Homo sapiens: one gene and its partners. The protein of the gene in region 1 interacts with the protein of each later gene in a pairwise test. Each region holds a gene or a part of one and is shown in the gene's direction. Other genes may lie near its edges.

Region 1 (3,500 bases):
AATCTCGGCTCACTGCAACCTCCAACTCCCTGGTTCAAGTGATTCTCCTGCCTCAGCCTCCCGATCCCGAGTAGCTGGGATTACAGGCACGCGCCACCACGCCCAGCTAATTTTTGTATTTTTAGTAGAGACGGGTTTCACCATGTTGGCAAGGATGGTCTCAATCTCCTGACCTCATGATCCGCCCACCTCAGCCTCTCAAAGTGCGGGATTACAGGCGTGATCCACTGCACCCGGCCAATTTTTGTATTTTTTATAAAGACAGGGTTTCGCCATGTTTCCAGGCTGATCTCGAACTCCTGAGCTCAAGCGATCTGCCTGCCTCAGCCTCCCATAGTGTTAGGATTACAGGCGTGAGCCACCACTCCCAGCCTCTCAATTCTTTCTTACCCCTTCGCAATATATATATATATATTTTAGTGAGCCAATGCTTTATGTTTTTATGGAAATAATAGTTTCATTTTAGTCTTATTCATTGATTATTTTATCATTTCCCTTTTACCTATTGATTGATAGTCTGTGTTTCTAGGCTCAGCTTGTCAATCGGAAACAGAAATTAGAGTCTGTGGAACTTTCTAGCCAATCAGAAATTCAACACTTAAGCAGTAAACTGGAGCGGGCTAATGACACTATCTGTGCCAATGAGTTGGAAATAGAGCGCCTCACCATGAGGGTCAATGACTTGGTTGGAACCAGTATGACTGTCCTACAGGAGCAGCAGCAAAAAGAAGAAAAATTGAGGGAATCTGAAAAACTATTAGAGGTATGTTTTAAAATCACTATAATTGGGGGAAGTGTGTGTATGAGTATTTTAAGAGAGTGTTATTAAGCTAGAACTAGGTTCTACAATCCATACTTTCTTCCCTACTTTATAAATGATGGATCAGATATTGATAGTTTTACTAATATTGTGACTTTATTACAATATTTACAATATTGTAATATTGTTACGTAACTTATAGTCTGACTTCCTGGCTTCTCGTGAAATAGAAAAATTGTAATAATAGCTGGCTTAGAAATTTCTGAGTATTTTGCAGGTTCTGCAGGAATTAAAAAGAAGGAAAATTATAATCATATTTGACTTTTTTGCAGGCTCTGCAGGAAGAAAAGAGAGAATTGAAGGCAGCTCTTCAGTCTCAAGAAAATCTCATACATGAGGCCAGAATACAAAAGGAGAAGTTACAAGAAAAAGTAAAGGCAACTAACACTCAACATGCTGTAGAAGCTATAAGGTAAATTTAATCTTAAATATTATTCATCTTAGCCACTTAATGACTAGGTATTAAGCACTAGGCTTATTTTTATTTTTATTTTTATTTTATTTTCAGATAGTCTCCTGTTGCCCAGACTGGAGTGCAGTGGTGCAATCTCAGCTCACTGCAACCTCAACCTCCGAGGTTCAAGCCATTCTCCAGGCTCAGCCTCCCAAGTAGCTGGGACTACAGGTGCATGCTACCACACCTGGCTAGTTTTTTGTATTTTTAGAGACGGGCATTCATCATGTTGGCTAGGCCGGTCTTAAATTCCTAACCTCAGGTGATCTGCCCACCTCAGCCTCCCAAAGTGCTGGGATTACAGGTGTGAGCTGCCACGCCCATCCAAGCACTAGTTTTCATATTGCATATTCATAATTTTATGTTTGATCATATTGTGGATTTTCTTAATTGGCTTTAACTTCTGAGTTAGGTTTTTAAAGTGTTATAAAATTTTGTGTGGTTAATTTTCTTCTGCCACCAGTTAGGGTCCCTAACAGAGACTCTCATGTTTAGAAAGTTAGAAACCAAGGTCAGTTTGCATGCTTGGTGAAAATCCAAATGTGCAGGGAATTGTCATCCATGTCTCCTGGAGGCCTCACTTTGTTGGTGGAATAAGTTGTGATTAGTAGCTGCTTATCATTAATAGCAGCCAGCCATTGGGCTAGCCCTCTTGCTTGATTTAAGTCTGATGCACACTTTTATTTTTGCCAGAATTCTCCTGTAACTTTTCAGTTTTTTTGGTACAGGGTTTCAAGTGTCACTGAAGTGATTTTGCCATTTTGTCTTTTTCCCTTGAAAAAAGGCCAAATCCCAGTTAAGAAGGGAGTAAATTGCTACTTTTTGAAGTATCAGCATCTCTTGACTCTTTCTTTCCTCTCCCAATATTCTTTTTATAAAGCAGGAGACAAACTTGAAGAGTTCCAAAGAGGTTACCAAAAATGATGGGGAAACACAGACTAGATGAGCATTATTTTTGTTTGCAGAGATAAAGGCGTTAACAATCATCCTATGTCTTTCCATAGGCCACGGGAAGAATCTCTGGCAGAAAAGAAGTACACCTCTCAAGGGCAGGGGGACTTAGACAGTGTGCTCTCCCAGTTGAATTTTACCCATACTAGTGAGGACCTTCTGCAGGCAGAGGTGACTTGTCTTGAAGGCAGGTACATAATTATACACACATTTCAAAAATTTCAAGTTGTTAAAATGAATTTTTGATCATCATATTGTAAATGAATGTAATAGTCATAGTAAAAAAAATAAGATTTTTTTCTAGTATCCACAAATGGCCTAAGTTCTTATTTCTTTTTTTTTTTTTTTGAGACGGAGTCCGCTCTGTCACCCAGACTGGAGTGCAATGGCACAATCTCAGCTCACTGCAACCTCCGCCTCCCGGTTCAATTGATTCTTCTGCCCCAGCCTCCTGAGTAGCTGAGATTACAGGCGTGCACCACCATGCCTGGCTAATTTTTATATTTTTGTAGAGACGGTGTTTCACCATGTTGGCCAGGCTGGTCTTGAACTCCTGACCTCAGGTGATCCACCTGCCTTGGCCTCCCAAAGTGCTGGGATTACAGGCATGAGTCACCGCACCCTGCCCTAAGTTCTTATTTCATTGAGAAGACAGAAGCAATTAAAGGAGAACCTCTTAATCTTTCTGTCATCAAATCTACCAGTCTGCCCATACCTGTGCCTTTCTGCACTTCTAAGACCAACCACTCCACTTGTGTCCTTTTTCTGTAGTTATATCCTTTCTCTTCTGCATCATCAAGTTCTTTCTGTCTGCTGAATCTATCCACTGGTATAAAATACGCTGTAACATCACCCATCTGGGGGAAAAACCATCCCTTAATCCTATGTCTCCGTCAAGTTATTTCCACATTTCTGTACTTCTCTTTAAGACCAAATTCTTCAAAAGAGTTGTCTATACTGACTCTACTTCTTTACCTTTCACCTGTTTAGCAGCCCTTCACTTAGGTTTTCCTCCTTGCCACCTCAGAAGCAGGGTAGGAAGGGGTAACAGTTGACACATGGTGATCCTTTTTGTTCTGCTGTGGTGTTGTTACTTCCTTGGGTGTTAATTGAATCCTGACTAATGCTATACCATACCCACCTAAACACTTGTCATTGTCGTACTTATAGAATTTTTTTTGGTTTTTCATAACCTCTCAACTTTTTGATTGGGAAGAGTGTGATATCTTGTTTTAAACACATGAATCATGATCATTTGTACACTGACATTTTCTG
Region 2 (3,500 bases), on another chromosome or scaffold:
CCTTTGGTGTATTCATTTGGTTTCTTTTCTTTGAATAGCATAGCATATCGTCGGGTCATTCGTGTCTATCAGTATGAAGTTGGGGATGATCTGTCTGGAAGGTTTTTCTCCTTATTTCTCTTCTTACCTCACTGTGGCTTTACTGATGCACTCTTGACATCCCCAGGCGGCTCCACCCTGACTAACCTGCCGCCCTCGGCTGCTTGGGAAGGAGGGGTCTGTCCTCCCACTGCACCGGCACCCAGCCTCCTGCCCCCAGGTCCTGGGGGGCATTTTCCCCGGGGGGACATGGCGTGACTGTGAGTCTGACCTGCTGGGGTAGGAGGAAGCCTGGTGCCTTGCCTTGCTAGAGCACTTTGAACCTGGGGAGATTGCAGAGCTAACCCTGGCTCGCCGGGTTTTAAAAGGGTAGGTTGGGGTGAATGTGGGTACAGGGGAGCCTGGGCTAAAACCCCACCAAGGCCACACGCACCGTGTGATTCGTCCCTGCACGTAACCCTAACTCGTTTGTTGTCTTTGTTTACTGGTAGCCTCTGTGACCTGGCACTGTGTTCTCTTGGGAAGGAGGCTCCCCAGAGCCCATCTGCTCTCAGAACTTGGTCCTAGAGAGGAGGCTCCCTCCCTGGCTGTGTCTAGAGGATGGAACCGGGATCTGGGGTTTAGTCACAGCCATCTCTCTCCTTTTGGCACAGTTGGTCGTGATCTCCCAGCACTCCACTTGTGTCCTTTGTCTGCAGGGTCGTGCTCTCATTCCCCCTAGAATGGGGCTCCCTCCCTCAGGAACCTTGCCGGGACACTCCAGGGTTTCTGTGGGGAGGCTGTCAGGTTCTCAGCCTCCCCTCTGCCCTGAGGTCTCCTGTCTGTCAGGTGTCAGGGTGTGCCATCCCCCACATGGCTGCAGAGAGGATGCTCAGACAGGCCTGCAGCCACCCTGCACCCATGGGGGAATTTAAACTCCATTCCTGAGTCATCCTGGCCTTGGGAGCAAGACGAGTGGGCTCAGCCCTGGCCCACACCAAGGCAGCAGCTTCCCATCTCTAAAACGGGAGAAATGCTCCCTGCCATCCCTCGATCCCTGGGGCCCATTAGGTAAAGATGGCCAGTTGCAGTTAGGTTTGGTTTCCTTAAAAGGAATGTGAGGTTGCCAGGCATTGCTCTCTCTGAGAGAAGGTTCATTCTGAGCTCTCGGCCAGCTGGGAGCAGGCCCCTTTCCTCACTGTCCTTCCACGTTTAGGTCCTGTATGGTGGAAGAGTCGGGGACCCTCGAATCCCAGCTTGAAGCTACCAAAGTAAGTGCCCGTGGGGCTCTGGCCCAGCAGAGACCCTTCACCCAGCCACCCCCCAGGGTACCCCTTCCCTTCCTGGCTTAAAGTCAGGAACCAGATGTGCTATTATTGTACCCTTTTCCCTTGGCCTAAAGCAGTCTAGGGCTCTTCACTATCTCTCTCTCTTTTCTTTCTTTCTTCATGGAATCTCTCTCTCGCCCAGGCTGGAGTGCAGTGGTGCGATATTGGCTCACTGCAACCTCCACCTCCCAGGTCAAGCAATTCTCCTGCCTCAGCCTCCCAAATAGCTGTACTACAGATGTGTGCCACCACATTTGGCTAATTTTTGTTTATTTTTAATTATCTTTTGAGATGGAGTTTCACTCTTGTTGCCCAGGCTGGAGTGCAATGGACGTGGTCTTGGCTCACTGCAACCTCCACCTCCTGGGTTCAAGTGATCCTCCTGCCTCAACCTCCCAAGTAGCTGGGATTACAGGCGCCCACCACCACACCTGGGTAATTTTTGTATTTTTAGTAGAGACAGGGTTTCACCATGTTGGCCAGGCAGGCTGGTCTCGAACTCCTGACCTCGGCTGATCTGCCCGCCTCGGCCTCCCAAAGTGCTGGGATTACAAGCGTGAGCCACCACATCTGGCCTAGTTTTTATATTTTTAGTAGAGACAGTGTTTTGCCTTGTTGGCCAGGCCGGTCTGGAACTCCTGATCTCCAGTGATCTGTCCACCTCAGCCTCCCAAAGTGCTGGGATTACAAGCATGAGCCACCACTCCCGGCCGAGGGCTCTTCACTTTAAAGAAAGTCTTTGGGGCTGGGTGTGGTGACTTACACCTGTAATCCCAGCACTTTGGGAAGCCGAGGCGGGTGGATTGCTTGAAGTCAGGAGTTCGAGACCAGCCTGGCCAACATGGGGAAACCCCATCTCTACTAAAAATACAAAATATTAGCTGGGTGTGGTGGCAGGCACCTGTAATCCCAGCTACTCAGGAGGCTGAGGCAGGAGAATCACTTGATTCTGGGATGCGGAGGTTGCAGTGACCCGAGATCAGGCCATTGCACTCCAGCCTGGGTGACAAGAGCAAAACTCCCTCTGAAAAAAATTACTTGGGCATGGTGGCCTACACCTGCTCAAAGTCCAGCATGGGCAATATATAGCAAGACCTTGTCTTAAAAATAAGGCTGGGTGCAGTGGCTCATGCCTATAATCCCAGAACTTTGGGAGGCCAAGACAGGCAGATCACTTGAGCCTAGGAATTCAAGACCAGCCTGGTCAATGCAGTGAAACATCGCCTCTACTAAAAATACAAAAATTAGGCAGGTGTGGTGATGGGCACCTGTTAGTTCCAGCTACTCAGGAGATTGAGGCAGGAGAATCACTTGAACCCGGGAGGTTGCAGTGAGCGTGATTGCGCCACTGCACTCTAGCCTAGGCGACAGTGAGACTCCATCTCAAAAAAATTTATAAAAATCTTTGGCCACTGCTTCCTGGAGTCCTCGCCGTACTTGTCCTTGGCGTGCACTGCCCTCTGGCAGGTCTACCAGCTGCTTTGGAACCCTCACATTGAAAGTCTCTCCCTCTATTGAGGTGGTTGGGATTTCTTCAGCTTCACCCCATCCCACTATTCCTATTCTAGAATGTTCTTGTTTTACGAGGTCTCAGGCCAGGCCTGGAGCAGGAACCAGAGGGCAGTAAGTGGCTCCTGGGCTGGTGACTGAGCTGAGGGCCCCCGTCTGAGCATCTGTGCTCCCCACCCCTGCAGCGCAAGCACCAGGAAATCCGAGCCATGAGAAGTCAGCTCAAAAAGATCGAGGACCTGGGGGCCGCCATGGAGGAGGCCCTCATCCTGGACAACAAGTACACGGAGCACAGCACCGTGGGCCTCGCCCAGCAGTGGGACCAGCTGGACCAGCTGGGCATGCGCATGCAGCACAACCTGGAGCAGCAGATCCAGGCCAGGTACCCGGGAGGGCTGTGGGCCAGGCTCAGCCCAGAGCAGGGGGAGGAAAAGACACAGTCACCTGCTGTGTGGAGGGTCTGTTCCCTAATTTCTGTTTTTCTTCCAGGAACACAACAGGTGTGACTGAGGAGGCCCTCAAAGAATTCAGCATGATGTTTAAGTGAGTTCAGCCTTACTCGCCCTGGCTGGGTGGGGGGTGTTCGGCAGCAGGGCTGCCTGCTGAGCCGCCCTCGGCTTTGTGCTGCAGACACTTTGACAAGGA
Region 3 (3,500 bases), 1.1 Mb from region 1:
CTCAACAAACAGGACAGAGCCTGGCATAAACAGTAATTATGTGCTGAAGAAATTAAGGCAAGAATGAATGAGTGAATAAATAGAAAAGTTTCATGGGGAAGCCGTGTTTGAAATGAGCATTATACTGGAGCAGGCTTTCTCAGACTGAGGGCTGGGAGTGGGGAGGTAGTGAAACAAGTTGCTCTCAATGGAGGCAGCAGGTGCAAAGGCACAGAGGGATTCCAGGTGCAGCAGGGAGGCAGCTAGAGCAGGCCTGGGGGCAGGGCCATGTGAAACCGGGGTTCTCAAGGTTGAGTATGCATCATAAGCCCCTGGAAAGCTTGCTGAGACACAAATTGTTGGGACCCACCTGCAGAGATTCTGATAGGTCCATCTGAAACAGGAGCTGAAAAGTGCATTTCTCACAAGTTCCCAGGTGATGCTGCTGCCACTGGTCCAGGGCCCACACTTTGAGAACCACTAGTGCAAAGTACAGTCAGTCCTTCACATCCATGGGTTCCACATCCATGGATTCAACCAACTGTAGATCAAAATATTTTTTAAAAAATAGATGATTGCGTTTATACTGAACATGTGGGCTTTTTTCTTGTCATTATTTTCTAAATAACACAATAAATAACAACTATGTACATAGCATTTCCATTGTATTGGGTATCATAAGTAATCTTGAGATGATTTAAAGTATATGGAAGGATGTGTGTGTAGGTTATATGCAAATACTACATCATTTTATATAAGAGACTTGAGCATCCGTGGGGGACTGGAACCAAGACCCCATAGATACCAAAGGACAACTGTACATAGGTTTTCTATAAGCTTTAATTTTGGAGGGTAGGAATTGTTACCTTAAAAGAAGGATATAAATCACTATTTTAAGCCAATATTAGTCCTTTGATACTTAAATGTGAATGAGTTGCAAGTTCTTTATCAACCAGAAGGAGAACTCCAGGCACCAGAGGTGAGAGACAGGAGTGATTAAGAACTGGGAAAGGGAGACACCCTAGTCTGCCTGCTCCCCAGTGTGCCCCAGGCCAAGCTGGAACAGAAATGATTAGCTTTGCTAGTGGGGAATTCAATGAAAATGGCAGGGTTTGGTGGCTTACACCTGTAACCCCAGGACTCTGGGAGGCCAAGATGGGTGGATAATTTGAGGTCAGGAGTTCGAGACCAGCCTGGCCAACATGGTGAAACCCCATCTCTATTAAAAATACAAAAATTAGCTGGGCGCAGTGGCACATGCCTGTAATCCCAGCTACTCAGGAGGCTGAGGCACGAGAATATCTTGAATCTGGGAGGCAGAGGTTGCAGTGAGCAGATATTGTGCCACTGCACTCCAGCCTGGGCAACAAAGCAAGACTCTGTCTCAAAGAAAAAACAAAAAAAGTAATTCAATGAAATGAAACAAAATAAGACAGCCACACTGGAGCAAGGGGAAAGCAGTTATTTTCTTCTCCCATAGCTGGGATTTGGCTCCACCCTGCAGGCTCCCCCTATCAGAGCCTTCAGCTCACCATTTATATATATATATATATATATATATATATATATATATATATATATATATATATATATATATATATATATAAAGGAGTTTCTTGGGTTGAAGGGAGGACACCCCTCATTCCCTACCTGTGGGAGATCCTGAGAGGCTTGGGGATTCAAGTTTGAAAAACCACTCCTCAAGGCTCCATGAAACCCCTAAACTATATCCACAATGTTTATGTTCACGTGTATGTTTTGGGGGAGACGAAACTCTAGAGCCACGCTGCCCAATACGGTAGCCACGGGTGGCCACCATGCTGGACAGTGCAGACAGAGCATTTCCACCGTCACAGGAAGCTCTCTCAGCACTCATCTAGAGCTTTCACCAGCCTTCCAAAGGCATCCATGACCAGAAATTTTAAGAGCTGCTAGGCAAAGCCAGTGAAACTTCATCTAAGGAGCCGGACTCTGCCCTGGAGAGATGAAAGCTTGTCACTGTGACAGAGGCTATGAACAAGTCTGCCTTTGAATAGTCTTTTTGTGCCAAAAATCCCACTCTAAAAACTCTTAGAAGATATCCAGATTTTATGCCTTATTATTTATATCCCCCCACCCTGACCATTGTCCAAAGAGAGGGACATCTTAATTCCACAAATATTTGCTGTAAGAAAGGTTCTCTGAGGTCCCCCAGAGCCTCTGTGCCTAACACAAGTCATGGTGGTAAGTGATCTTGACGCTCCCAGTGACCTTGTCTCCTTTGGTGTGTGTGATCGCTCTAGGTGGGTGAGGCAGTCTTGGAAAATGCCCGGCTCATGCTGCAGACAGAAACTATCCAGGCCGGAGCAGATGACTTTAAAGAGAGGTAATGTCTTACAGCAGAGGCGACAGTCCCTCCACATCCCTAGACTCCTAGGCAAGTGTGGATAATGCTGTTCTGGAGCCTGCATCATCCACCTTCTACCTCAGGGGAAGCTGGCAGGATAACAGAGCCATGATTATCCAGCTCACACCCCTCCTTGTAAACATAAAGTAGGCCCCAAGGGCTCAAAGATTTTGCCCACTGTCAGTTGGTTTAGAGCAGGGTTCTCAAACTCTGGAATGCTCAGAATCACCCAGGGGCCATATAGAAAACAGAGATTGCTGCGCCCCACCCTGTTGAATTTCTGACTCAATGGGTCTGGAGAAGGGCCCCAAATTTATATTCCTAACAAGTTCCCAGGGATGCTGATCCTGCTGGTCCTGGGACTCAAATACTTTGAGAACTACTAGCTTACAGTAATGATTCTCCAACCTGGGCATATCAGAATTACCTGGGCACTTAAAAATGTCAGTGCAGTGCACAAGCCATAGACTAATTAAATCAGAGTCCCCAGGGGTTGGGTCCAGGCTTCAGCAGTTTTAGAGCTCACCAGGTGACTTAATGTGCATCCAGGCTTGAGAACCGTGCTCAGCTACACCTCCCACTCAGTCCCTGAAGGCATCTGGGTTTGCAGCCACTCTCCTGGAGATGGACACTTTTAACATGGGTGCTTTGGAGACAGAAACCACATTTCTTATTTTGGGGTCCCCACCCTGGTGCTTAGCAGGTTGTCAGTAATGTTTGTTAAAGGATCCTTGGTTGAAAAGGAGGACAATCAGGATAGCGATGAAGATGCCGGATCCCCTAACCTGGATCTGAACTCCTGAGTTTTCCCTGGAGTTCTGTGTTGCAACACTCCCATGAGGCTGGTAGCCCGGGAAGCCAGGTTATCAGAAGTTGGCTGCAATTGCCTTCATTTTAATAAATCAATGTGTGACAACTGCACTAACAGTGCCCTCAAATCTATTGAAACAGTGACTTTTACCATTCATTGTCTAACTATCACATAATTGGCCTGTTGGTAACATTTATAATCTGATTCTTTTTCTTTTGGGCTACTCAGTTATGCTAATTAAGTTCCTTTATCTGCAGATATGAAAATGAGCAGCCATTTCGAAAGGCGGCAGAAGAGGAAATTAACTCTCTGTATAAAGTCATT
Region 4 (3,500 bases), on another chromosome or scaffold:
TGGGGTCTGAGTGTCTCAGGGTGGGGGAACGGGCATCCCGTGGATCCCAAGGGTCCCTTCTCACTTCCCTTTTCCCTCCCTCTGGTGATTCCAGCAAAAAACCAACCAGGGAATGTGAGTCCCTGTCTGAGCTCAAGGTAACGCCCGCCTGCCTGTGCCGTAGCCTCTGCTGGGGCCTGAGGGGGGCGGGTGGGCAGCTGCAGAGCACGGGGGCATCCCCACCCGGGCAGATGCTCCTTCCAGCCTGGGCTGCTGTGGCCCGGCTCACCGCGGGCCTCCAGACCCAGTATTAGAATGAGGGGCCTCGGGGGCTTGGACCCAATGGTGGGTCATGCATGTGGGCTGGGGCTGCGGGTGCATGGCGCTCCAGCTGGAATGCCTGAGAATGCACCCAGGTCTGAAGATCCTGTGTGGCACCCATGTCTTCTCAGTGCACGTCAATGGTGTTGAAGCTCTGTCACAGGGCCCATGGGTGCCCCCCCGAGTCCGCATGGTCAGCACATAGGTCAGGCATGCTGCACTGTGTGGCTCTTCGCTAGGGGCTCTCCAGCCTCCACTTCTCTTTCTTTGATGTGTTTAGACCTAGAAAATAAGTCCCCTTCCTGCCTGTTGCAAAGTAACGTAAGAGTTCCCTCACCCGAGTGGATGCAGACCTTCTTGCTGTCAGCCACCCTTCCTTCATACACATAGCCAGCCCAGGTGACCAGAACCTCCCAGGACAGATGAGGCTTTGTGTCCTTATGAGACTGGGAGAACCTGCTGGGCACCCCTGCTGCAGGTGCTGTGGTGGGTGGGGACCCCACTGCCCTTCCCACTGAGCACATCATGGCTACCTGACTTGGTGGGAGCTCCAGGCAGTCACTTCTGTTTCTTAAACATAGCTTTACTGAGGTACAATTCACATACCATGTAATTCACCCACGGGAAGTGTATGATTCAGTGGTTTCTAATACAGACTTCTGCAGCCATTACCACCGTCAACTTTACGACATTTTCATCAGCCCAAGAAGACACCCTACACTCCTTAGCTGTCCCCATCCAACTCCCCCACCCCAGTAACCACTCAGAATAGGTATGGATTTGCCTATTCTGGACGTTTCGTATAAATGGCGTCATACACTACGTGGCCTTCTGTGTCTGGCTTCTTTCTCTCAGCATCATGTTTTCAAGGTTCATCCATGCTCTACATGTATTAGTGCTTCATTCCTTTTCATGGCCAAATAAGATTCCATTGTTTGGATGCACCTCACTTTGTTCATCCATTCCTCTGTGGATGGACTTGTCTCCACCTTTTGGCTATCGAATGAAGACTGATGCTATGAACATTTGTGTACAAAGTGTTAGGAGTTGGCTTACGAGATGAAATGGATTGACTAGCAGGCTGGATGCAGTGGCTCACGCCTGTAATCCCAGCACTTTGGGAGGCCGAGGCAGGTGGATCATGAGGTCAGGAGTTTGAGACCAGCCTGGCCAATATGGTGAAACCCCGTCTCTACTAAAAATACAAATATTAGCCGGGCATGGTGGCGCACACTTGTAGTCCCAGCTACTCGGGAGGTGAGGCAGGAGAATCACTTGAACCCAGGAGGTGGAGGTTGCGGTGAGCTGAGATCACGTCATTGCACTCCAGCCTGGGCAACAAGAGCAAAAATCTGTCTCAAAAAAAAAGGCTGGGCGCGGTGGCTCACGCCTGTAATCCCAGCGCTTTGGGAGGCCAAGGCAGGCGAATGACGAGGTCAGGAGATCGAGACCATCCTGGCTAACACAGTGAAACCCCGTCTCTACTAAAAATACAAAAAATTAGCCGGGCGCGGTGGCGGGCGCCTGTAGTCCCAGCTACTCGGGAGGCTGAGGCAGGAGAATGGCGTGAACCCGGGAGGCGGAGCTTGCAGTGAGCCGAGATTGCGCCACAGCACTCCAGCCTGGGCGACAGAGCGAGACTCCGTCTCAAAAAAAAAAGAAAAGAAAAAGAAATGGATTGGCCACCCATCCCGTGGGAGTCAGGGCTTATATGGTAATCTAGGAGGAACACCTGTTTGGGAATTATTTATGCTTTTGAGAGAAACCTTGCCCTCCAGCATAGAGCAGGGAAAATGGCAGTCCTTCAGAACCGGTCTTCAGCAGTCTCAGAAGGCAGACACAGTCCCCAGCTTGTGCCCAGACAGACGCCTGGGCAGCCCCGCCTTGGGTGTGAGCCTCACGGATGATGGAGTGGAAACCCAGCGGGCTGGCCTTTCCTCGGCCTTCCTCCTCTCAATCTCCATTTTAGGGTTTGCCAAACCGGGGCTGCCTCCTGTCTCTGAGCAAGTCTGCTGTTGGTTTCTTTCCTATTTTCTTTCTTTCTTTCTTTCTTTCTTTTTTTTTTTTGAGACAGGGTCTTGCACTGTTGCCCAGGTTGGAGTGTTGGAGTGTAGTGGTGTGATCTCGGCTCACTGCAACCTCTGCCTCCTAGGCTCAAGCGATTCTCCTGCCTCAGCTTCCTGAGTAGCTGGGTTTACAGACATGTGCCACCATGCCCAGCTAATTTTTGTATTTTTTTAGTAGAGATGGGGGTTTCACCATGTTGGCCAGGCTGGTCTTGAACTCCTGACCTCGGGTGATCTGCCTGCCTCAGCCTCCCAAAGTACTGGGATTACAGGCATGAGCCACTGTGCCCGGCCTTCGTTTCAATGAGATCAAAATTGCAAGACACCAGCAGATGGAGACTGGCCCCAAAGGGCTATGCTGCCCCTTCCTTTCTTCACCTGGGATCCCCTGCCCTCAGCCCCCAGCAGGTAGGATGCCTTGGTCATGGGAGCTCACAGAGCTGATTCAGGCACTGGGGGTCTTGGACTGGGGGCCTGCCTGCCGTCTGCAGTAAGACCCAACCCCTACCAACAGGCAACTGCGAGGGCAGAGACTGAGGGCCTGACCTAACGTCTAGTTACAGCGCCCCCCTCCCCAGGGACCTTACCCACATTCTCCATCAGAAACATAGCAAGCCAGACATCACGCTTCCTTTCCCTTGTGTAAGGACAGTCTCCCTCCTGGACAGGAGACACGGATTGTTGTGGGGGAAGGACAGACAGTAACCCATGTGGCATGCCCAGTGACCTCCCTAAGAACAGGGGAGCTGTGTGATGGTGGTGAGGGGATAGGCTCGGGGATTCCCCTCGCACCTGTCACGCCATCCACGCTGTCACACCGGCGGCTCCAGCCTGGGCTCTTCAGGGAAACAAGGGCTCTCCTCCTCCCACTTCCAAGAGGGAAGGGGCCTCCTCTTCTGTCTGAGGTGCTCCTCCCTCAGGGCTGGCTGCAGGAGGGCTGAGGCGGGAGGATCCCTGGAGCAGTTGTCATCTGCCCTTTCTTGAGGGCCAGCTGTGTGCCAGGCCAGGCAGGGGAGGCTCTGATCACCCCCACACACAAGGAACTCAACATCTGGTGACTGAGGACAAGCGTCACAGTCCCTTCCCTGTAAGGGCTCATAGCCTAAGTGGGGGATCGAAGTACCTAAAAACCTG

Evidence for each region.
Region 2: the proteins of CEP63 (region 1) and SPTAN1 interact in a two-hybrid assay, tested with the Homo sapiens proteins (2 studies listed by BioGRID and IntAct).
Region 3: the proteins of CEP63 (region 1) and BFSP2 interact in binary tests that used the Homo sapiens proteins (3 or more experiments, as listed by UniProt).
Region 4: the proteins of CEP63 (region 1) and CAMKK2 interact in a two-hybrid assay, tested with the Homo sapiens proteins (2 studies listed by BioGRID and IntAct).

Annotation. Positions count from the first base shown.
Region 1 is NC_000003.12:134,545,057-134,548,556, forward strand, and holds part of CEP63 (centrosomal protein of 63 kDa), read left to right. Parts: intron 1-529; coding exon 530-763; intron 764-1,092; coding exon 1,093-1,232; intron 1,233-2,278; coding exon 2,279-2,416; intron 2,417-3,500. UniProt on the Homo sapiens protein: Required for normal spindle assembly.
Region 2 is NC_000009.12:128,629,087-128,632,586, forward strand, and holds part of SPTAN1 (spectrin alpha chain, non-erythrocytic 1), read left to right. Parts: intron 1-38; coding exon of another isoform or gene 39-101; intron 102-1,234; coding exon 1,235-1,289; intron 1,290-3,040; coding exon 3,041-3,237; intron 3,238-3,344; coding exon 3,345-3,398; intron 3,399-3,485; coding exon 3,486-3,500. UniProt on the Homo sapiens protein: Fodrin, which seems to be involved in secretion, interacts with calmodulin in a calcium-dependent manner and is thus candidate for the calcium-dependent movement of the cytoskeleton at the membrane.
Region 3 is NC_000003.12:133,445,056-133,448,555, forward strand, and holds part of BFSP2 (phakinin), read left to right. Parts: intron 1-349; exon of another isoform or gene 350-520; intron 521-2,261; coding exon 2,262-2,344; intron 2,345-3,433; coding exon 3,434-3,500.
Region 4 is NC_000012.12:121,241,210-121,244,709, reverse strand, and holds part of CAMKK2 (calcium/calmodulin-dependent protein kinase kinase 2), read left to right. Parts: intron 1-94; coding exon 95-137; intron 138-580; coding exon of another isoform or gene 581-586; exon of another isoform or gene 587-1,122; intron 1,123-3,500. UniProt on the Homo sapiens protein: Calcium/calmodulin-dependent protein kinase belonging to a proposed calcium-triggered signaling cascade involved in a number of cellular processes. Isoform 1, isoform 2 and isoform 3 phosphorylate CAMK1 and CAMK4. Isoform 3 phosphorylates CAMK1D.